Regions from separate parts of the Homo sapiens genome. Here regions 1 and 3 are each linked to region 2. The links come from fine-mapping of genetic effects on gene expression. A gene starts in region 2. Each other region holds a variant in brackets. All regions are shown on one strand. Distances are from middle to middle.

Region 1 (8,182 bases), 82 kb after region 2:
TCATTTCCTTAGTGCAGGGGGAATGCCGTGCTGCACCAGGCCACGGGAAATACTAGATTTGGTTAGGAGGCAGAGGCATGACTGAAGGGAAAGCATATATCAGAGACTGTATTGGGGTTTTGGCAGGAAAGGCATGCAGGGTGGGATGAGGAGCTTAAAACTCAGTGGTTTGCATAAGTCTGGCAGCCTTAGGGCTAAGAGATTATCCCTTATTGTGTGGTGACAGGGCTTGTGTTGATTAGGACAGGAGAAATAATCATGTATGAGCATTAGATAGTGGTTCAGCATATGGGATCTGGATCGCAAGGGAAATGTAAAAACATTGGCTGTTAGTTTGGCCCTCCAATTCTTAGATTTTAAGTAGATAAATACAGATCTAAGGAAACACAGAATAAGAAGTTGTTCATAGACTGAAGTGTCATAATTTTGGCAGGATTGTATGGTCTTTGAGGATGTGGCCATATATTTCTCCCAAGAGGAATGGGGGATCCTTAATGATGCTCAGAGACACCTGCACAGCAATGTGATGTTGGAGAACTTTGCGCTTTTGTCATCAGTAGGTAAGGCCTTCATACCTACTCTGGTGTCTTGTGCTGGGTGCTGTTTTTTTGCTCTTTTCCATGACAACTCTGTCTTTCCCACACCAGATTGTGAGTGCTACGTCCTGTCCTCTCCTGGTTTCCTGGCAAATGTGATAAGGCAGCCAGAGCTGGGCTGTGTATACTGTACCACCTCCCCTTAAGCAGCCCCAGCTTCTGTTGCTCTGAAACTTTACAAGATAAGGCTCGGAAGTCAGAAATCTTCAGGTTTCTTTAAGATATCCTAATGGCGGTGCCTGTCCCTGGTTTGATTACTCTGTCCAAATGTGTGAAACCTCTGTCCAAGGGTTTCCCTGTTCCCCTTGCTGACATACTTGGAGACAGTGTCTGTGCTAGGAATTTCAGGCACCTCCCTGGTCACCACTTGTGAGGATTGTGAAGTTATTTCTGCAGGACGCTCTACTGGGTGTTCTGGTAGCTTTAGAATGCAGCATGTCCTGGGTTTATTGCTCTGTGTACATGCTGTCCCCTCCCTTTCCCTGCCTTTCCCGTAGCTGGACTTATGCCGCAGCTAGATAGTTGCTCACCTTGAGCAAGGGGGAGGTCTCTGGGTGCCTGGCAGAGTGGATAGTCCTCTATTAATGGCAAGAGACACTCAGAAGGACTTGGCCCTGGTGGGTGAAAGCTGGGAAAGGATGTGATATCAAGGCTGGGTTCAAATCACATTGAGAACTTACCTTGTGACCACTATTGTTTGATGCAGGGCCACTGGCCACTCGTCACTCTTCCTTTCCTTCCCTGTTGTTATTTTTACTCTGACTTCTGACCCCTGGCTTCCACCTCTGACCCCTCCTCTCCAGCCTTCATCTCTCCACCATTCTCTTCCACCTCTCCCTTTGCAGTGCTGTCTAATGTATGACCTGTACTTTAGGTGTTATGAGGTCTGCGTGTATCCTTCAGTAGTCCATGAATACTCGCTCTCACACAATCAGATCTCTCTGGATCTGGACACAACCGTCATGGCCTGTTGAAAGCCATTTATAGAGGAGTGAGTTGGAGACCCCACCTGCCCTCCCTGCATGGTACTTCTCCCTTGTGTCCTTACCACCAGGATTCCCCCACTACACACACTTCACAGGCCCACCTCTGAACACTGGGCCTTCCTCTCACTGGCCTTATTTCCTTGCCTGTGACCAGTCCTGTGCCCTCATTTGTGGGTGTGTCTCACAGACATTTGTGATGGGGCTGTCTCCTCCCTCCGGAGTTCACGTGCACTTCACCAGCATTTCTGTTCTTACAGGTTGTTGGCATGGAGCCAAGGATGAGGAGGTACCTTCCAAGCAGTGTGTTTCTGTAAGAGTGTTACAGGTCACAATTCCAAAGCCAGCTTTGTCCACCCTGAAGGCCCAGCCCTGCAAGATGTGTAGCTCAATTCTGAAGGACATTCTGCACCTGGCTGAGCACGATGGAACACACCCTGAGCAAGGGCTGTACACATGTGCAGCAGAGCATGACCTGCACCAAAAGGAGCAGATTAGAGAGAAGCTCACCAGAAGTGATGAGTGGAGGCCTTCATTTGTGAACCACAGTGCTCACGTGGGAGAGAGGAACTTCACATGCACGCAGGGTGGCAAGGATTTTACTGCCAGCTCAGACCTTCTCCAGCAACAGGTCTTAAACAGTGGGTGGAAGCTGTACAGGGATACCCAGGATGGGGAAGCCTTTCAAGGTGAACAGAATGATTTCAACTCCAGCCAAGGTGGGAAAGACTTTTGCCACCAACATGGGCTGTTTGAGCACCAAAAAACCCATAATGGGGAGAGGCCTTATGAGTTCAGTGAATGTGGGGAATTGTTTAGGTACAACTCCAACCTTATTAAATATCAGCAAAATCATGCTGGAGAAAGGCCTTATGAGGGCACTGAATATGGAAAGACCTTTATTAGAAAGTCCAACCTAGTTCAGCACCAGAAAATTCACAGTGAAGGCTTTCTTTCAAAAAGGTCTGACCCCATTGAACATCAGGAGATTCTCAGTAGACCAACACCTTATGAATGCACCCAGTGTGGGAAGGCCTTTCTTACACAGGCTCATCTGGTTGGTCACCAGAAAACCCATACTGGAGAACAGCCCTATGAATGCAACAAGTGTGGGAAGTTTTTTATGTATAACTCCAAACTCATCAGACATCAGAAAGTTCACACTGGGGAGAGGCGTTACGAGTGCAGTGAATGTGGGAAATTGTTTATGGACAGCTTCACACTCGGTAGACATCAGAGAGTTCATACTGGAGAAAGGCCTTTTGAATGCAGCATATGTGGAAAATTCTTTAGTCACCGCTCCACACTCAATATGCACCAGAGAGTTCATGCTGGCAAAAGGCTTTATAAGTGTAGCGAATGTGGGAAAGCCTTTAGCCTCAAACATAATGTTGTTCAGCATCTGAAAATTCATACTGGAGAACGGCCTTATGAGTGCACTGAATGTGAGAAGGCCTTTGTTAGAAAGTCCCACCTAGTTCAGCACCAGAAAATCCACACTGATGCATTTTCAAAAAGGTCTGACCTCATTCAACACAAGAGGATTGACATTAGGCCAAGGCCTTATACATGCAGTGAATGTGGGAAGGCCTTCCTTACACAGGCTCATCTGGTTGGTCACCAGAAAATCCATACTGGAGAACGGCCTTATGAATGCACTCAATGTGCGAAGGCCTTTGTTAGAAAGTCCCACCTAGTTCAGCATGAGAAAATCCACACTGATGCATTTTCAAAAAGGTCTGACCTCATTCAACACAAGAGGATTGACCTCAGGCCAAGGCCTTATGTGTGTAGTGAATGTGGGAAGGCCTTCCTTACACAGGCTCATCTAGATGGTCACCAGAAAATCCAGACTGGAGAACGGCGTTATGAATGCAATGAATGTGGGAAATTCTTTTTGGACAGCTACAAACTTGTTATTCATCAGAGAATTCACACTGGAGAAAAGCCTTATAAATGCAGCAAATGTGGGAAATTCTTTAGATATCGCTGTACACTGAGTAGACATCAGAAAGTTCACACTGGAGAAAGACCTTATGAGTGTAGTGAATGTGGGAAATTTTTTAGAGATAGCTACAAACTCATTATTCATCAGAGAGTTCATACTGGAGAAAAGCCTTATGAATGCAGCAACTGTGGGAAGTTTCTTAGATACCGCTCTACATTCATTAAACATCATAAAGTTTGCACTGGGGAGAAGCCTCATGAGTGCAGTAAATGTAGGGAATTGTTTAGGACTAAATCGAGCCTTATTATACATCAGCAGTCTCACACTGGAGAAAGTCCTTTTAAGTTAAGGGAATGTGGGAAAGACTTCAACAAATGTAATACTGGTCAGCGCCAAAAAACTCACACTGGAGAAAGGTCTTATGAGTGTGGTGAATCCAGCAAAGTGTTTAAATACAACTCCAGCCTCATTAAACATCAGA[T/G]AATTCATACTGGAAAAAGGCCTTAGTGGAGTGAATGCAGGAAAGTCACCAAAACTGTCACCTCATTCAGCACCAAAAGGTTCACATCGGACCAAGAACCTATTAATATATGTAAATCTAATGTTGAAAGAGTTCAGATGGAAATCTGCGAGGATTTCCTGCTGGGAACTACATTAAAAACATTTATGTCCAGGCGTGGTGGCTCACGCCTGTAATCCCAGCACTTTGGGAGGCAGAGGTGGGTGGATCACCTGAGGTCAGGAGTTTGAGACCAGCCGGGCCAACATGGTGAAGCCCCATCTCTACTAAAAATACAAAAATTAGCTGGGCATGGTGGCAGGTGCCTGTAATCCCAGCTATTCAGGGGACTGAGGCAGGGAGCATCACTTGAACCTGGGAGGCGGAGGTTGCAGTGAACTGAGATTGTTCCATTGCACTCCAGCCTGGGTGACAGGGCGAGACTCTGTCTCAAAAAGAAAAAAATTATAATTGTGGCAAATTACAGGTAACTTAAAATCTACCATCTTAACCCATATTTAACTGTACTGTTCAGTAGTGTTAAGTCATTCGCATTGTTGTCAATTAATATCCAGAAGTTTTTTCAACTTAATGAAACTAAAACATTATACCCTTTAAACCAGGGGTCCACAACCCCCAGGCTGCAAACTGGTACCAGTCTGTGGCCTGTTAGGAACCGGGCCAGCATCACTACCTGAGCTTCACCTCCTGTCAGATGAGCAGCATTAGATTCTCATAGCAGCCTGAGCCCTATTGTGAACTGTGCCTGTGAGGGATCTAGGTTGTGTGCTCCTTATGAGAATCTAACTAATACCTGATGATCTGAGGTGGGACAGTTTTATTCTGAAACTGTCTGCCCCCTCCTCTGTCCCTGATGCGTGGAAAAATTGGCTTCCATGAAACCAGTCCCTGGTGCCAAAGAGGTTGGGGACCGCTGCTTTAAACTACTCCTCTTCCTCATTCCCTACGCCAACCAGCCCCTGACAATACTACTGTATGAATTTTACTATAAATATCTCATATGAGGAAACTTAAGTTTTAGTCTTTTGTGACTTATTTTGAGGCTTATTTCCCTAAATGTCTTCAAGGTTTATCCATGTTGTAGCATAGCTTATGATTTTCATCTTTTTTAAAGGCCGAATAAAATCCCATTGTAGTCATGTGTCGCCTAACAAGAGGACTGTGTTCTGAGTAATCATCTTAAGGTGATTTTGTCATTGTGTGAACAAAGAGTGTACTTACACAAACCTGAAGGGCACAGCCTATTACGCACCTAGGCTATATGATATGGTCCATTGCGCCTCAGATATAAACCTTAACAGCATGTTACAGTATTGAATATTGTAGGTAATTGAAACACAATGATAAGTAAATGTGTATCTAAACATATCTAAGTTTCCAAAAGGTACTGTAAAAATGTATGAAAAATGGTAAAAACTTTATAGGGCACTAACATGAACGAAGCTTGCGGGACCCCTCTGGTTGAGTCAGGGAGTGAGTTGTGAGTGAATGTGAAGCTCTAGGACATTACTGTACCCTATTGTAGATGTTATAAACATTGTACACTTAGGCTACTCTAAATTAATTTTTTCTTTAGTAATAAATTAACCTTAGTCTACTGTAACGTTTTTACTTCATGAACTTTTAAAATTTTAAAAAGCTTTTTGACTCTTTTGTAATAATAGCTTAAAACACAAACACATTATACAGCCTGTATAGAAGTACTCCTTTATATTCTATAAACTTTTTCTATTTAATTTTTTAACTTCGTAAAAAATAAGTTAAAAATGAAGACACAGACACACACATTAGTCAAGGCCTACAGAGGGTGAGGATCATTAATATCACTGTCTTTTGCCTCCACATCTTGTCCCACTAGAAGGTTTTCAGGCTCAATAACAGGGAGTTGTTATCTCCTATGATAACAATATTCTGGAATATTTTCTGAAGCCTTGCCTCACACTTTTTTTTTTTTTTTTTTTTTGAGACAGAGTCTCGCACTGTTGCCAGGCTGGAGTGCAGTGGCACAATCTCGGCTCACTGCAACCTCTGCCTCCTGGGTTCAAGTGATTCTCCTGCTTCAGCCTCCCGAGTAGCTAGGATTACAGGTGCCTGCCACCACGCTCAGCTAATTTTTTGTATTTTTAGTAGAGATGGCGTTTCACTATGTTGGCCAGGCTGGTCTCGAACTCCTGACCTCATGATTCGCCCGCCTCAGCCTCCCAGAGTGCTGGGATGACAGGCATGAGCCACCGCGCCTGGCTTTATTTTTTTTTTGAGACAGAGTCTTGCACTGTTGCCTGGGCTGGTGTGTAGTGGTGTGATCTTGGCTCACTGCAACCTCCGCCTCCCGGGTACAAGCGATTCTCCTGCCTCAGCCTCCCGAGTAGCTAGGATTACAGGTGCCCACCAGCATGCCCGGCTAATTTTTTGTATTTTTAGTAGAGATGGGGTTTCACTATGTTGGCCAGGCTGGTCTCCAACTCCTGACCTCATGATCCGCCCATCTCGGCCTCCCAAAGTGCTGGGATTACAGGCATGAGCCACAGCGCCCGGCCTGTGCTCTTTATATGACTGGCAGACCAGTAGGTTTGTTTACACCAGTGTCACCACACACACTTGAGTAATGGGATTGAGTTACAGTGGCTGTGGTGGCACTAGGTGATAGGAGTTGTTTAGCTCTGTTATAATACGGGATTACTGTTATACATGTGGTCCATGGTAGACAGAAATGTGTGGCATATGACTGTGGTATATGTATATGCCACTTTTCCTGTATTCTTTCTTCAGTGTACATTTGGGTTGCTTCCACTCTTCTGTTCTTGTTAATGCCACTATGAGCATGAATATACAAATACCTCCTGAGGCCCTGCTTTAAATTCTTCTTGGACATATACCCAGAAGTGGAAATGGTGCTTCCCGTTAATAATAATAATTATAATAATAATAATTATTATTATTATTTTGAGACGGAGTCTTGCTCTGTCACCCAGGCTGGAGTTCAGTGGCACAATCTCGGCTCACTGCAAGCTCCGCCTCCCGGGTTCACGCCATTCTCCTGCCTCAGCCTCCCAAGTAGCTGGGACTACAGGTGCCCGCCACCACGCCCGGCTAATTTTTTGTATTTTTAGTAGAGACGGGGTTTCACCGTGTTAGCCAGGATGGTCTTGATCTTCCTGACTTTGTGATCCATCCGCCTCAGCCTCCCAAAGTGCTGGGATTACAGGCGTGAGCCACCACGCCTGGCCACTTCCCGTTAATTCTATTTTAAATTGTGGGGGGAATTATTTTCCATAGCAGCTGCACCATTTTACATTCTCACCAGTGCAGGGGTTCTAGTTTTTCACATTATTGCCAACACTTTGTTTTTTAATCATGATGGGTGTAAGATGTTATTTTATTATGGTTTTTTAATTTGCATTTCAGTATTGGTGTTGAGCATCTTTTCATTTGCTTGTTGACTAATTGTATAGGTTCTTTGGAGAAATATCTGTTAAATGTCTTTGCCCATTGAAGAAAGTTTTTGTAAATTTTCAGATAACATTGTATGCTTTTGTTGTGTACAACATGATGTGAAGTATATATACTTTGTTGAGTGGTTAACATGTACGTATTATATATGTACATATTCTGTATACGTATTTTAAATATTAACCCCTTGCAGATATGTGTTTTTCAAATACTGTCTACCATTCAGTCTGCTTCCTTTTCATTCTGTTCATGTCTTTTTTTTTTTTTTTTGCACAGGAGTTTTCAAATTTCAATGGAGTCCAATATATGTTATGTTTGTTTCCTATGCTTTTGGTATTATACCCAAGAAATTATTGCTAAATCCAGTGTCATGAACCTTTTTTCATGTTATTTTCTAGGAGTTTTATAGTTTTAAGTTGTACTTTTATGTCTGATTTATTTCAGTTTGTTTTAGTAAATGGAGGAAGGTAAGAGTTCAACTTCATTCTTTTGCATATAGATATCCAGCTTTTTGAAAGTCATTTGTTGAAAAGACTCCTTAATAAGTTTTTGCGCTCTTGTCAAAAATCTGAGCATAAGTATGAGGACTTCCGTCTGGCCTCTTTATTCCACTATATGTATGCATTTGTGCTAGTACCAAGGTGTTTTGATACATAATTCTTTTAAAAGAATAATGTTTCTGTCC
Region 2 (8,182 bases):
GGCAGGGCTCACTCTCCTAAATTGTAGGGAGAGGAATATGGTAAAGCCAAAATAGTTGACAGATCTAACTTTCCTAGTGGAACAGTATATATAGATTTTAATGAGGAACATTTATTTAATAGCTTTATGGAGGTATGATTAACATGCAATAAACTGCAAATATGTAAAGTGTAAAATGTGCTGTTTCAGCATGTGTGTACACCTATGAAACCACCACAGTCAAGATATCCAACACAACAAAAGATTGTCCCTTTATAATCCTCAATTTTTCCTTATCTTGTTTTCCACAATTCACAAGCAACAGCAAGCATTTTCTATAATTTTATAAATGAAACCATATGGTGTGTACTTTTTAGGGGGTGGGGCTCTGGCTTTTTCAGTAAACATAACTATTTTAAGGTTAATCCATTATCTTGTTGCATGAATCAATTGTTTGCTCATTTGTATTGCTGCGTAGTATTTCAGTATTTCATTGTATACCACAATTTTTCTTCTTTGTCAACTTAATTGTTATGGATGTTTGGGTAACTTTCAGTTTTTGGCTATTACAAATAAACCTCTGAAGATTTGTGTGCAAATTATGGCTGAATGATATTCCATTCTATAAATACACCTCAGTTTCTTTATCCATTTACTTATTGAAGGACGGTTGCTTTCAAGTTTTGGCAGTTATGAATAAACCTACTACATATTTGTATAGTTTTTCTGTGGAGATGTTTTCAACTCATTTGGATATGTGCCAAGGAGTGCAATTTTCTCTGTCATATAGCATGTTTAGTCTTGTAAGAAACTGCCAAGCTGTCTTCCAAAGCGGCTGCACCATTTATTTTATTTATATATATTTTTTGAGACAGAGTCTCCACTCTGTCACCCAGGCTGGAGTGCAGTGGTATGATCTTGGTTCACTGCAACCTCCACCTATTTTAGTAGACATGGGTTTTTACCATGTTGGCCAGGCTGGTCTCAAACTCCTGACCTCAAGTGATCACCCTCCTCGGCCTCCCAAAGTGCTGGGATAACGGGGGTGAGCCACTGCAACGGGCTGTGGCTGTACCATTTTTGCATCCAACTAACAATGATTGAACATTCCTCTTGCATCTCATCCTAATCAGCATTTGGCATTTTCAGTATTTTGGATTTTAAAATGCCATTCAAATAGGTGTGTAGTGGTATGCCATTGTTGCTTTTATTTGCAATTCCCTAATAACACACAATAAGTATCTTTTTTAAAGGCAGGGTTGTTTTGTTTTGTTTTGAAATGGAGTCTTGCTCTGTTGCCCAGGCTGGAGTACAGTGGCATGATTTCGGCTCACTGCAACCTCCACCTCCCGGGTTCAAGCGATTCTCCCACCTTAGCCTTCCAAGCAGCTGGGACTACAGGCACCCGCCACCATGCCCAGCTAATTTTTGTATTTTTAGCAGAAATGGGGTTTCGCCATGTTGGCCAGGCTGGTCTCGAACTCCTGACCTCAGGTGATCTGTCTGCCTCGGCCTCCCAAGGTGCTGGGATTACAGGTGTGAGTCACTGCGCCCAGCCTGGCTGGGGTTTTTTTATGTGAGTTTCACACACCTCTGAGTAAGTGGCTTGCAGACAGAGAAGTTAACAACTTTGGCTGTTAGCTTGAACCTGTGATTTATGAATACCAAAAAGACAAATACAGAATCTAAGGAAACACATAACAGTCCTGTATACACACAGCAGCTGGCAGCCCTATTCCCGGTGTGTCCCATATACCTACCATTGACCTGAAACCCAGTTTGTACGTGCTCATTGAACATTTTGTAGAGCAGTAAATACACATCATCACACAGATTGCCTACTCATTTTTATTTTTATTTTTCGAGACGGAGTCTTGCACTGTCACCCAGGCTGGAGTGCAGTGGCGCGATCTCTGCTCACTGCAACTTCCACCTCCTGGGTTCAAGCGATTCTCCTGCCTCAGCCTCCCAAGTAGCTTGGATTACAGGCACCCGCCACCATGCCCAGATAATTTTTGTATTTTTAGTAGAGACAGGGTTTCACTATGTTGGCCAGGCTGGTCTTGAGCTCCTGACCTCGTGATCCGCCCACCTCGGCCTCCCAAATTGCTGGGATTGCAGGCGTGAGCCACCGCACCCGGCCTTCATTTTTATTTTTTGACAAGTGTTTCCATTTGTTATCTCTATCCCTCCAAACAGTTAATAAGCGATGTTTTCAAGTATGAAATAAGAAATACATATAGGAGACAGAAGCATAATGTGTCCAGGTTCCAGCACAGCCAGTCTCAACTTCATTCTTTGACTTCTCAGACTCTTGCTCAAACTCTACTGTAACCTTGCTTTTTCCCCCCTTCACATGTCACAGAGAGATTTCTGTAGGACTATTTCTGCCACTAGTTTTGAAATAACATAATCACTGTTAGTCCAAACTGCACCATCCTGTAAGCCCCCTGCCATCTCACAGACCTTGGTCAGAGTGAAGCATTCCACGGAGTGAGGGCCTTGAGAAACATCCTGCCCAACTGCCTGACTTTCTTATCACATCGTTCTGGGAAAAGATCCAAGGAAGGTCACTATCACATCCTGCCGGATAAAAGGCCAAACTGCCTCAGGAACATCTTACGCACATCCTTTGGCCGGGTGCTGTGGCTCACGCCTGTAATCCCAGCAATTTGGGAGGCCGAGGCGGGCGGATCACCTGAGGTCAGGAATTCCAGACTGGCCTGACCAACATGGTGAAACCCTGTCCCTACTAAAAATACAAAAAAATTAGCCGGGCGTGGTGGCACGCGCCTGTAAAGCCAACTACTCGGGAGGCGGAGTTCAAGAATCGCTTGAACTCCGGGAGGCGGAGGTTGCAGTGGGCCGAGATCACGCCATTGCACTCAAGGCTGGGCGACAAGAGCGAGACTCCTCCAAAAACAAAAAAAAACCCACCATCCTCCTGGGCAGCAAGTCATACCCTCCCGCCGCGCCCCCTGCCCCCCACCCCTGACCCCTCTCATCCAGGCCTATAATTGCCCCAGCCTGTAAGCAGTGAGGGGTTCTGGCACTAAGCTAGTTCTCCCCATCACAGGTCTCGTGCTGGACATAAAACCTGCATTGCTGTAGAGCTGCCAACTCTGCCTTTCTTTAACCCTCGCCTTCCCTTCAAAACCTAACAGTTATTATTAATAGATTTCTGTAATTTTCATTTCACAAGTATTTTCACAGATAATTTCAACTCCCTGTAAAATGATAACTCACTTCTCAGGAAGGAGATAAGATCATGAAAGTTCACAGTTTTTATTGGGGATAATACGTTCCCTGTGTACATATACTCCAACTATGGAATGGCACAAAATGTCCTGTCAGGAAATGGCATGTATCAGTCACTCTCATTTTCAGACAGGATTGAGACTTTTAAAATAAATGTAAAATATTTCAGACATGAAGTAATAAGTATTATTAGAATAAAAGCATTGCACTCTTGGTAGGAACACAATCACTGACTCTACAGACAGTAATGATGTTTTCTTCTGGATCCAGAGGCACAGCGTCACCCTTTCAATCTACGTCGGTATCTCCTGTCTTCTTTTGTGCAAATTCCCAGCCATGTAGTCTTTCTTTGTTCTCTTGGACCAACCATATTGAAGCTTAATAAATAGAAGTCAAAGTTTAACTGTATGTGTATTTGAAAAGCAACATATGGCTGAGAGGCATGAGTAGAGACAGAGTGCCTTTGTGGTATAGTGTGTCCCTTTGGCGGTGTAGCCGTTGAGAACTTGCTGTGCTTCACAATCCGATATCATAGGTCCCTCACATTTCTGTGAGTATCCTAGACCTTACTTCAAGAAAATCTGGTTATGTCGCCTTTAAGAGCAACCCAAGCCCCGTCCTGTCCGTGGAGTCCGGCACTCTGTTTACCAGCTCCCCTGACGGTGCCACTGAGCCTCTATCCGCCATATAAGGACTGACCAACGCTCTAAGGCAAGTCCAGAAGCGGTGTCGAAACTTCATAACCCAGAAGACACTGCGGTTCTCGGCAGCGCGACTGACCCAATGAATGTGCAGGAAGGAACCTTTGCGTGCGTGCGTGCGTGCGTGCGTCCGTCCTCGTGCTCGCGCATCGTAGGAGGGCGGGACTTCCGGCGTCCTCTTGCCGTGGTTGATTTGATTTTCTCTGGTGTTTTCACTAGTTCCGGCCTTTGGCGCTCTATGACGTCACCGAAGTGACGGAGCGGAAAAGCGCGAGAAGCGGCTTGGTTCCTTGTACGCAGAGGCGGTAGTGACACAGGCACAACTGACAGTGGCAGAAGCTCAGCTGACAAGGACTGGGGACGGCGGTGTCCTTGTCTTGCCTTTGTCGCCCCCGCCCCTCTCTTCCCTGGCTGGACTTGCGGAGTCCCCGCCGAAGAACCCGAGGTGGGTGCCCCGTCCCAGGCCCCCCCCCACCTCCGCCCGACCCCTCCTTCCAGTGCTGAAGCCCATAGAAGGGGCCCTGCAGGTCAGGCCCCTTGTCTCGAAGAGAGGGGCGTTCCTGTGTGGGGTCCCCGTATCAGCTGGTTTGATGCAGCCTCAGAGCTCCCTTCGGGGATCTCAGGTTCAGAGCATGGAGGTGCTGCCAAGTGGGCCGCGTCGGGGAGCCCGGAGTGTGGGTTGTTTCTGCGGGAAAGAGAGGGTTTTGTGAATTTTCTCTTGGAATGGCAGCCTGAGCAGCCGGTATAACCATGGAAGGTTGTCAAGGGAAGACCAGTGGGAGGGGCAGGTCCAGAGTTAGAACGAGCAGGATGGGGAATTGACACAGAGAGACCCAGAAGAGGCCACTGCAGTGGATCCCAGAGGCTGCACCAGAGCCGTGGTATAAGAGGGACAATGTGATGGGATTCTGGATAGACCTGGAAGATAGAGCCAACAGGTTTTCCTGCCGTATCAGATATGTCTGTGAGCAAAAATAGGGAGTGAAGGGTCATTTTTTTTTTTTTGCCCGAACATCTGAAAGAATGAAGTTGGGGAAGTCAGCAGCATGAGAAGTAGGTTTCATGGAGAAGATCATGGGTTGGAGTTTGGCCAGTGTGATTCTCAGGCGTCTCAAGTTGAAAATGTCACATGGGTAGGGGGACAGAAAGGTGTGGAGTCTACAGAGGAGAACTGGTGTAGATTCTTCAAAAGAATAGAGGGTGGCCGGGCGTGGTGGCTCACGCCGGTAATCCCAGCACTTTGGGAGGCCAAGGCGAGCGGATCACAAGGTCAGGCGTTCAAGACCAGCCTGACCAACATGGTGAAACCCCGTCTTTAGTAAAAATACAAAAATTAGCCGGGGGTGGTGACGCGCGCCTGTAATCCCAGCTATTCGGGAGGCTGAGGCAGGAGAATTGCCTGAACCCAGGAGGTGGAGATTGCAGTGAGCCAAGATCGCGCCATTGCACTCCAGCCTGGGCGACAGAGCGAGATTCCGTGTCAAAAAAAGGTGCGGAGCGCGGGTCTCTTCCGCGGAAACTGACATTGCGTTTCCGTTGTCGGCCTCCCGCTGCAGGAGCCATATATTGAAGACCATGTCTGGAAGCTTCTACTTTGTAATTGTTGGTCACCATGATAATCCAGTTTTTGAAATGGAGTTTTTGCCAGCTGGGAAGGCAGAATCCAAAGACGACCATCGTCATCTGAACCAGTTCATAGCTCATGCTGCTCTCGACCTCGTAGATGAGAACATGTGGCTGTCGAACAACATGTACTTGAAAACTGTGGACAAGTTCAACGAGTGGTTTGTGTCAGCATTTGTCACCGCGGGGCATATGAGGTTTATTATGCTTCATGACATAAGACAAGAAGATGGAATAAAGAACTTCTTTACTGATGTTTATGATTTATATATAAAATTTTCAATGAATCCATTTTATGAACCCAATTCTCCTATTCGATCAAGTGCATTTGACAGAAAAGTTCAGTTTCTTGGGAAGAAACACCTTTTAAGCTGAATGGAGAAAATTCCAAAATAAATTATATCACCACAATGGTGTATACTCAGGAATGTGTACATTGTAAATTACTTGATTAAATAGCCTGGAAATCTTTTGTGTATTCTCAGCTTATCTAAACTTAATGAAATTTCTTTTATATTTAAAAATAGTACATTCTGTCTCATGTCACATATCAGTAGATCAATTAGTATTTCCTTGTGAACAATGTTATTTATAAAGAACTCATTATCAATAATAATTAATTTCTTTCTTTTTTTTTTTTTTTTGAGACGGAGTTTTGCTCTTGTTGCCCAGGCTGGAGTGCAGTGGCACAGTCTCGTCTCACTGCACCCTCCGCCTCCCAGGTTCAAGCAATTCTGCCTCAGCCTCCCGAGTAGCTGGGATTACAGGCTCCCACCACCATGCCTGCCTAATTTTTTTTGTATTTTTAGTAGAGACGGAGTTTCGCCATGTTGGTCAGGCTGGTCTTGAACTCCTGACCTCGTGATCTGCCTGCCTCGGCCTCCCAAAGTGCTGGGATTACAGGCATGAGCCACCACTCCCGGCCATGAAATATTTTTACTTAAAAATTGGGAATAAGCTTTCTTTTTCTTTCTTTCTTTCTTTTTTTTTTTTCTTTTGAGATGGAGTCTGGCTCCTGTTGTGCAGGGGCTGGAGTGCAGTGGCACGATCTTGGCTCACTGCAACCTCCACCTCCCGGGTTCAAGCAATTCTCCTTCTTCAGCCTCCCAAGTAGCTAGGATTACAGGCATGCACCACCACGCCTGGCTAATTTTTGTATTTTTAGTAAAGACGGGATTTCACCATATTGGTCAGGCTGGTCTTGAACTCCTGACCTCGTGATCCGCTCGCCTCGGCCTCCCAAAGTGCTGGGATTACAGGTGTGAGCCACTGCGCCTGGCCATGAAATATTTTTTACTTAAAAATTGGGAATAAGCTTTTTTGTGTGTGTGTGTATGTTTTTGTTTTTTTGTTTTTGAGATGGAGTCTTGCTCCTGTCATGCAGGCTGGAGTGCAGTGGCACGATCTTGGCTCACTGCAGCCTCTGCCTCCCGGGTTCAAGCAGTTCTCCTTCCGCCTCCAGAGTAGCTGGGATTACAGGCATACGCCTGGCTAATTTTTGTATTTTTAGTAGAGACAGGGTTTCGCCATTTTGGCCAGGCTGGTCTTGAACTCCTGACCTCAGGTTATCTGCCTGCCTCGGCCTCCCGGAGTGCTGGGATTACAGGTGTGAGCCACTGCGCCTGGCTGGGAATAAGCTTTCGACTTGCCCAATTCAGATAAATTGTTTTTTTTTTTTTTTTTTTTGACGTGGAGTTTTGCTCTGTCGTCCAGGCTGGAGTGCAGTGGCGCTTGGCTCACTGCAACCTCTGCCTCCTGACTTCAAGCGATTCTCCTGCCTCAGCCTCCCAAAGTGCTGGGATTACAGGTGTGAGCCACCATACCCGGCCCAGATAGGTTGATCTTATAACAATCCAGAAACAAATGTCATAGTCAAGATTTGGTAGATAGATTTAAAACTAAAATATTCTGCCATTGGAAGTGAAATGTCATAGCACATACGTGGACGTTATGCATTTAGAGATGTTATAAAAATGTATTGGCAGTATACATAGCACTACTCAAGAAGCCAAAGAAACACTTGTGCAGTGCTAAGTGTCACATGTCTGCTTCTGCCAGAGGCTAGGAATAGTGATCTTGCTATAATGTGAGAACCTGAATCATGTTTGTAAAATAGGAGGCTGGGAGCAGTTCCAGGCCACAGTGAAGTGTGTTGCTTCTGTCACTTTATATTCTTATATTTCCTTTCCCTCAGACAATCAACTGTTGATGCCTGTACTTGTGAAAAGTTGTAAGGCAATTTTTAGGGTTGTTGTCAAAGAAAAGCTTGGATTACATTAACATTTGTACTCAGCCTTTTAGGCAATACACCAGAGGGGGCTGGGAATTGTCTGTTTGTTCCTATGATAAGTAGATCTTACTGTAAAATAGTAAATGTCCATTGAAAAGCAAGTAACACAACCTGTGCTAACTGGGAGCACTTGAACAATTTTGTTCCATTCTGAATAACTTTTCAGCAAGTAATTCTAAGCTTTGTCTTATATCCTTGTGTAAAATTGCTACCTTCATTTTTACCCTATTTGATTTCTTAAATGGTTTGTTCAAGAAAAAAAAAAAAAAAAAAAAGAATAGAGGGTGTAGATTGGACCGGGTCCTGAGGATCCAATTTGGTAGGGAAGTCT
Region 3 (8,182 bases), 90 kb before region 2:
AAAACAATCATATTTACTGAGCATCTACATTTAGTATAACATTTATATAAGATATATCAGCAGTATCATCATGAACATGCTGAGCCACTGGAGCAGCTCGTGTGGGGAATGGATAGATTTAGAAACAACAATCCATCCCATAAAGCCATTCATACTTTTCCATATATTTGTATCAATTCAATTACTCATTGTTCTCCTTGATCTACTGTTAATTGTACTTTGTGGTAAACCACCTCCCCTCTCACTACATTGGCTTAAGTTATCCTCCACCTTGCACATCTGGAAAGAGCCAGAGCTCCCTAACAGGACTTCTCCCTCTTGCCCCTCCCATATTCCAATTTCCATAGACTACCCAGAGTGATCCTTTTAAAACATAAATCAGTCCAGGCACAGTGGCTCACGCCTGTAATCCCAGCACTTTGGGAGGCTGAGGCGGGTGGATCACGAGGTCAGGAGATCGAGACCATCCTGGCTAACACGGTGAAACCCTGTCTCTACTAAAAATACAAAAAATTACCCGGGCATGGTGGCACATGCCTCTAATCCCAGCTACTCCAGAGGCTGAGGTGGGAGAATCGCTTGAACTCAGGAGGAGAAGGTTGCAGTGAGCCGAGATCACGCCATCACACTCCAGCCTGGCGACAGGGCAAGACTCCGTCTCAAAAAACAAACAAAAACATAAATCAGATAACATCACAGCTCTGCTCAAAACCCCATGATGGCTACCCATTTCACAGTGTATTAGCTATATTTTCTTATTTTCTGCATTGTTGATGCTATGGAATTTGGGACCTTGCCATTTAGAGTTAACTGATTCTTAGAGATTGCAAATGACTCACTCTGAACCATGCCTTTTATTTGCATACTAACAAATCCAGAGTACCCTAATGTGAATCATCTCCTCTGTCTGGCTCTTACACTACAGGAGACAATTTTTTTTTTTTTTTTTTTTTTTTGCTCTAATGACTCCAGGGCCAGGTACTAGGCAGACAGGGACAGCTCCTAGACCCCAAAGTCTACCAACTTTATTCAAACCAGCAAATCCTCTTCTGGTTACCCAGCCCTGCCTTTCTTTTCCTGTGGAAAACAATAAAGGATCTGGCCTCTGCTTTCTCCTCTGCTTCTGCTTCTTATACCACCCTGGTGCTTCTCACATAGCCCTGCAGGATGTGTTTTGCCTACTGTTTCTAAAACTCCGTGAGTTGAAAGTTCTTCCTTCCTGGCAATCATTTGCATGTCCGAGTTTCTTATCAGACCATACTGCAAAAAACCCCAGGTACATTTTTGAACACACAGGAACATATTACAACCTCTCTACGCTGGCATAAAAGACTACACAATTTGTTTCCATCTATCTCTCCAACTTCCATGCACATTCAGTTCCAGCCGCACTAGGCTTCTTGGTGTTCCACAAACACCCAGGATGCTCTGTCAGTTCCATTGTCCTGTGTGTTTTCTCTGAGTGATAACACTGTTTCCTGAGATCTCCACTTGATGAGTCTTTAATTCCTCCAAGTCCATGCTAAAACATCACTTTTTTTTTTTCTTTTGAGACGAAGTCTTGCTCTGTCGCCCAGGCTGGAGAGCAGTGGCGTGATCTCGGCTCACTGCAACCTCTGCCTCCCGGGTTCAAATGATTCTCCTGCCTCAGCCTCCCTAGTAGCTGGGACTACAGGGGCCCACCACCACGGCCAGCTAATTTTTTGTATTTTTAGTAGAGACGGGGTTTCACCATGTTAGCCAGGATGGTCTCGATCTCCCGACCTCATGATCTGCCTGCCTCAGCCTCCCAAAGTGCTGGGATTACAGGCATGAGCCACCACGCCCGGCCTAACTGTCCTATTAGACCTGTCCCAACCACTCTGTATTGCACAACTGGCTTTATCCCACTCTCACTGATTCTTAATCTGCTCTAGTTTGTCTTATCTCCGCAACACTCCTAACCTTCTATATTGTTTAGGAGTTTTGGATTATTATTATTTTGTGTGTGTGTGTGTGTGTGTGTGTGTGTGGTATGTATGTGTCTCCATTGTGACTTTTTGTTTTTTTGTTTAGAAACAGGGTTTCGCTAGATAGCCCAGGCTGGTCTCAAACTCCTGGTCTCAAGCGATCCTCCTGTTTCAGTGTCCTGAGTAGCTAGGACTACAGGAACAAACCCACCAGGCCCAGCTCTGTATCTCCACTGTTTAGAGCAGAGCCTATCACAAGATAGTCAAGTACTTGTTGAGTTAATTAATTAAAAGTTAGTAAATATATAAAAATATATTTTCAAATGGTTATGAATGTCCTAAAGAAAAATAGAGCAGAGTAATATTGGGGTGAGGGACTACTTTAAAATTTTTATTATTGTTATTATTTTTTAAACAAACAGGTTCTCTCACTCTGTTGCCCGGGCTGGAATGCAGTGGCACAATCATGGCTCACTGCAGCCTAAACCGCCGTGGCTCAAGTGATCCTCCTCCCTCAGCCTCCCGAGTAGCCAGGACTATAGGTACCCACCACCACGCCTGGCTAATTTTTAAATTTTTCACAGAGACGGGGTCTCACTATGTTGCCCAGGCTGGTCTTGAACTCCTGGGCTCAAGTGTTCCTCCTACCTCGGCTTCTCCAAGTGTTGGGATTACAGGACCCCACACCTGGCCGGAGGAGCTACTTTAGATTAAGAGATCCGCACTTGAGCCCAGGAGTTTTGAGAGGAGCTGGGCAACACAGTGAGACCCCATCTCTACAAAAAATAAAAAAAAAATTAGTTGGGTGTGTTGGTGTGGGCTTGTGATCCCAGTTACTCAGGAGGCTGAGGTGAGAGGATCACATGAGCCTGGGAGGTGGAGGCTGCAGTGAGCTATGACCCTGCTACAGTACTGCAGCCTGGGTTACAGAGGAAGACCCCATCTCAAAAGAAAAAAAAAAGAGTAAGAGATCTGGAGAGGCCTCTATGAGAAGGGAATGGTTGATACAAGCTGAGACTCATTACCTGGACCACATGTCTACAATCCAGGTGGCACTGGCTCAACACTGTATCTTTTACATCATCTTGCAAAGTGCCTTCCCTCAGCTTCTCTAAGAAGTATTTGTAGAGTGAATGTTGAGTGGATTTTATAATAATGCTGTGAAATCCCCATGGTCTCCTGGCACCACTGTAGGACTGTTACTGTAGGACTGCGGGGTCACCCCTGGCTGTTAAGGCCATTTCCCTTTCTCTTCTCTCAGCAACCAGCCTATGGCTTCAGGGGAAACTTCCAGTTCAAGACTGAAAGTCATGGTTTTGGCCCTGAGATGTATTTCTGCTCCTGACTCCATGAGAACAAGACAGATTCTACAGGGAATGAAAGGAGAAGCTACAAGGAATGAAAGGAGAAGGAATGAAAGGAATGAAGGGAGAAGGAATGAAAGGAGAAGCTGACTGGAGCAAACACTAGTTATGAAAGGATTCCCTATGAAGTGAGACTTGAGATGAAGAGGAAGCAGCAGATTCCAGATGAATTT[T/C]AGGGTTGGAACCCATATATTACCTTCATAACCAGAGAGCCTGGTATTCTTGATTCTTCCACTATAGACCACTGATGTGGTTTGAGAAGAGAGTACAGAATGACACCACTTTCAACAATACCCAGAGGCATAAATTGCTCCAAAGCTTTTTATCAGGCTTGACCGAACACGGTGGCTCACACCTGTAGTCCCAGCACTTTGGGAGGCCAAGGCGGGTGGATCACATGAGGTCAGGAGTTCGAGACCAGCCTGGCCAACATGGTGAAACCCTGTCTCTACTAAAAACTACAAAAATGTAATCCCAGCTACTTGGGATGAGGCAGGAGAATAGCTTGAACCTAGGAGGCAGAGGTTGCAGTGAGCCGAGATCACGCCATTGCACTCCAGCCTGGGTGACAGAGCAAAACTCCGTCTCAAAAAAAAAAAAAAAAAAAATCAGGCTGTTTGGGTTCCCAAACTGTTTGATATTTGTTCTACCTCAGGTTGGCGTACCTCCACATGTTTCTTTCCAGGCTCTCTGCTTGTCCCCTCAGGCAGTATCTCTGGATCTGGGTTCTAAAGCTGGGAGTGGGAACAATGGCCCACTTCTGACATCCTGCTTTGAGGGTTGAGTGCTCAGTGGTAGCGGGTGGCCAGTGGTCTCATGTCTTTTCAGCTGCCCTGTCATGGTACACTACTACAGACTTTCAGTGGGGCAAGTGTGATGAATCCCCAGTGCTCAGCATCATGATGCCCAAGGAAGGGCCTTCATCTCACCAACACTGGATGGGTGGAGGAAGGGAGCTCCTGCCTCTGGGGCTGCACTCACTAGGGATTTAGCCTCAGCAAGTTTCTGGTGGCAAGATAAGAAATGCTGACATCCTACCCTGCTGGGAAGACAGCCCTCTGTATGGAAGCTGAGAGGGAGAGCCCTGTGTTCTTGTCTGCAACACTGTAGAGTACAGTTTCCATATCATTGAACTGGGAGGGCTGAAGGAAAGAGATAGTCTTGGTTCAAATACCACAGACTCTCGCAGTTCTTACAGAAGGACAGATTCTCTTGAATAAATATTTTTTCATTTGATGTATATCCTTAGGACTATCTCCAGAGACACGACTTTTTTTGTTTTCATTTTTGTTTTTAATAATTTTCAACAGTTTTGTTGGGGAATAGGCCCACAGAGCTCCTTATGCTGTCACGCCAGAAGTCTCTCCTTGCTTTTTTTGTTTTAAACTTTTTATTTTCTGACAATTTTAGCTGTAAAGAAGCAAAGATATTACAGAGTTCCTATATAACTTCATGCAGCTCCACCTCATGTTAATACTTCATAAGCCTATGACATATTTGTCAAAGCTAAGAAATTAACATGGTATACTACTACTACTACTAACTGAACTACACACTGTATTTGGATTTCACCAGTTTTTTTCCACTAATGTCCTCCAGTTGCAGGATCCAGTCCAGGACACCACATTTCAGTTAATCATCTCATCGCTTTAGTTTTCTCCCATCTGTGACAGCTGCTCTGTCTTTTCTTGTTTTTCATGATCTACATACTTCTGGAGTACTCATAATGCAATGTCCCTTAATTTGCATTTGTCTGGTATTTTTTCATTATTAGTCTAGAATTGTGGGTTAAGGGGAAGAACATCAGATTGGCAAAGTGTCCTCCTTGTATCATCATAGTAGGTGTTACGTGATGTCAAGATGACTAAAATGGACCAGGCACGGTGGCTTACGCCCTGTAATCCCAGGACTTTGGGAGGCCGAGGCGGGTGGATCACAAGGTCAAGAGATCCAGACCATCCTGGCCAACATGGTGAAACCCCGTCTCTACTAAAAATACAAAAATTAGCCGGGCGTGGTGGCGTGCAACTGTAGTCCCAGCTGCTCAAGAGGCTCAGGCAGGAGAATGGCTTGAACCTGGGAGGCGGAGGTTGCAGTGAGCTGAGATTGCGCCACTGCACTCCAGCCTGGGAGACAGAGCAAGACTCCATCTCAAAAAAAAAAAAAAAAAAGATGACTTAAGTGATGCTAACCTTGATCACTTGGTTAGGTACTTGTCTGCCAGGTTTCCCCTGTCAAGTTACTGTTTTCATTTTCCACAATTAGTCACTAAATCCAGCCAACTCAAGGGGAAGACCACAAAGCTCCACTGTCTGAAGGGGGCTGTTGGTATCTATGTATACTATTTGCAATTCTTCTTTAAGATTGGTTTCTTCTCCTTGTTTATTTATGGGTGAGCCTTATTAATTACTGGTTTTAATTTCTGAAAAATCAAGTAAGTGCTCACCTTAGCAATACATATATTAAAAATCAAATGTAAGTGCTTCTATGTGTGTTTTGTGAATCCCGTCTTATACAAATAAGGTAAGGGAGATACTAAGATTTGGAAATAGTTCGTCTCCACCAAAACTCATGTTGAAATTTGATTTCCAAGCTGGGCATGGTGGTGTGCACCTGTAGTCCCAGCTACCTGGGAGGCTGAGGCCGAAGGATCACTTGAGCCTAGGAGTTCACAGACAGCCTGGGAAACATAGTGAGACCCCATATGATATGGTTTGGCTGTGTCCCCACCCAAATCTCATCTTGAATTGTAACTCTCACAACTCTCATTTGTCATGGGAGGGATCGGTGGGGGGTGACTGAATTATGGGGCAGGGTCTTTCCTGCGCTGTTATGATAGTGAAGGAGTCTCACCAGATCTGATAGTTTTAAAAACAGGAGTTTCTGGCTGGGTGCGGTGGCTCACACCTATAATCCCAGCACTTTGGGAGGCTGAGGTGGGCGGATCACAAGGTCAGGAGATCAAGACCATCCTGGTTAACATGATGAAACCCCGTTTCTACTAAAAATACAAAACATTAGTGGGGCGTGGTGGCTCACGCCTGTAGTCCCAGCTACTCAGGAGGCTGAGGCAGGAGAATCACTTGAACCCGGGAGGCAGAGTGAGCCGAGATCGCGCCACTGCACTCCAGCCTGAGCAACAGAGTGAGACTCCATCAAAAAAAAAAAAAAAAAAAAAGGAAACATTCAGTAAGCTTGTTCTGTATTCCTACACAAAGAGTATAACAGCAATATATTCCACAAGAGTAAAGCAAAATAAGTAAAGTTATTCTAAGTAAACTAAATTAGAAGGCTTTTCATGAACTGAGCAACTGTTGGAACTAAGCTGGCATGGGGTTGTTAGCTGATTATAATGTGCCCAGAATTGGAATATTGATCCAGATTTTTACATTACCCATCCCTCTTATTTTTTCTGAGCAGCAGTCAGAGATGTTGGTTCACAGGAATAAGCAGGGTAGCTTAAATTGCAGAAACAAACTTAAAAAGAACTAATGAGACTAGAATTTAATAACAAGTATACCATAGTTCTTGAAATATAATATTTCTCTCTCCAGTTTCCCATTTTTACTAAAGACAAATTAGGGTAAGACTGATTTGATTTGCTTTATTATACTTGGCCTGATTATTTATATAAAGTGCAGCAAGAATAATTATTTTCCACATAGGCATTTTTTTTTTTTTTTTTTTGAGATGGAGTCTCGCTCTGTTGCCCAGGCTGGAGTGCAGTGGCGCGTTCTCAGCTCACTGCAAGCTCCGTCTCCCGGGTTCACGCCATTCTCCTGCCTCAGCCTCCCGAGTAGCTGGGGCTATAGGCACCCGCCACCACGCCCAGCTAATTTTTTTGTATTTTTAGTAGAGACGGGGTTTCACCATGTTGGCCAGGCTGGTCTCGAATTCCTGACCTCAGGTGATCTGCCCTCCTTGGCCTTCCAGAGTGTTGGGATTACAGGCGTGAGCCACCACACCTGGCCTATCCACTTTTAATTAAGCTAACTTTTAACCATAGTGCTCTTTAAAAAAGAAATCCTTTCAAATCTCTTATTACCCAACTTTAGCCATGCCAAGAAGCCAATATTTCTAACTTCTGAACTTTACCAAAGGTTATCTCCTACGTGCATAGAGAAAGGAAAATTTAAGACAGTCTGCGGAGGAGAAGAGACTAGACAAGGTCACGCAGATATTAAACCAGAAATGACTTACTTCCTAGGTGGGGTATCAAACCCAAACTGCCACTGTGAAAGTGCAGAAACCTTAGTTACTGAGCTACAGTGTGGGACGGTGCCTACTTCCTTTCACAGAAGCCTAGAGTAGTTAATTTTGAGCTTGCAAAGGCTTTTAACTATTTTATATGATTTTTAGAGCTGACTATGACATGAACCCTAAAATTCCTTTTCCCTAGTAGGTGGAGACCAAGAGAAGGTACTGCCACATGGTTAAAAGGTCAGGCTCCCAAGGACATAAAACAAGGGGAGACTTCATCCTGTTTGTTTGTTTCAGGGACCTGCAGCTGTTTGTTACTGACCAGTTTGCTGGGTCATGTTGAAAAGTGGGCTCACAGGTGTTCTAAGCCCATGTTTCATCCTACAGAAAAACAAATTCACAGCACAAAATACACCAGTTTGACTAGCTTAGAATTCTTTTTCATATTAATCAAAACTTTACAGAGGAGATACACACTGATTTATTATTTTTATTATTGTTATTATTTTTACCATTCATTCAACCGTTTGCACAGAGAGGGAGAAGTCAGAAATCTGACTGGTAACAAATTCTTACCTTTTTGCTGGCATGCCAGGCTTCTGTGTTCCCTTTCTCTGAGTGGTCCCAGTGATCTGGCTTGTGGCACCATCGCCCTGGGGGCCAAGCCTC

Alleles and levels. Alleles are on the strand shown, and positions count from the first base shown. SD is a standard deviation of normalised expression in the study named. Not every link is listed here.
As copies of C replace T in region 3, the expression in monocytes after Pam3CSK4 of the gene that starts at base 4,231 in region 2 goes down (moderate effect, 0.50 SD a copy in Quach 2016).

Evidence for each region. PIP is the estimated chance that this variant, and not a neighbour inherited with it, causes the effect.
Region 1: its variant is fine-mapped to the expression of ZNF547 in whole blood (TOPMed, PIP above 0.99).
Region 3: its variant is fine-mapped to the expression of ZNF547 in monocytes after Pam3CSK4 (Quach 2016, PIP 0.95). The same link has a PIP of 0.9 or more in monocytes after LPS.

The regions. Positions count from the first base shown.
Region 1 is chr19:57,441,452-57,449,633 of GRCh38, forward strand. ZNF749 (zinc finger protein 749) reads left to right here. Exons shown (of 3, transcript NM_001023561.4): 2 at 434-560; 3 at 1,840-5,650. The coding sequence ends at 4,034. Among named protein-coding and RNA genes, the nearest start is that of ZNF749, 10 kb to the left of the region's middle. The variant T/G (reference allele first, on the strand shown) is at 4,009.
Region 2 is chr19:57,359,321-57,367,502 of GRCh38, forward strand. ZNF547 (zinc finger protein 547) reads left to right here and starts at 4,231. Exons shown (of 4, transcript NM_173631.4): 1 at 4,231-4,383. It overlaps ZNF304 (zinc finger protein 304), which reads left to right. Exons shown (of 3, transcript NM_020657.4): 3 at 1-578. TRAPPC2B (trafficking protein particle complex subunit 2B) reads left to right here and starts at 4,231. Exons shown (of 2, transcript NM_001355204.2): 1 at 4,231-4,383; 2 at 5,495-6,085. The coding sequence starts at 5,514. The coding sequence ends at 5,936. RefSeq lists enhancers at 3,784-3,863, 3,904-4,283.
Region 3 is chr19:57,268,846-57,277,027 of GRCh38, forward strand. ZNF460-AS1 (ZNF460 antisense RNA 1) reads right to left here. Exons shown (of 3, transcript NR_136529.1): 2 at 8,090-8,182. Among named protein-coding and RNA genes, the nearest start is that of ZNF460-AS1, 7.4 kb to the right of the region's middle. RefSeq lists silencers at 3,118-3,177, 4,216-4,510. The variant T/C (reference allele first, on the strand shown) is at 3,487.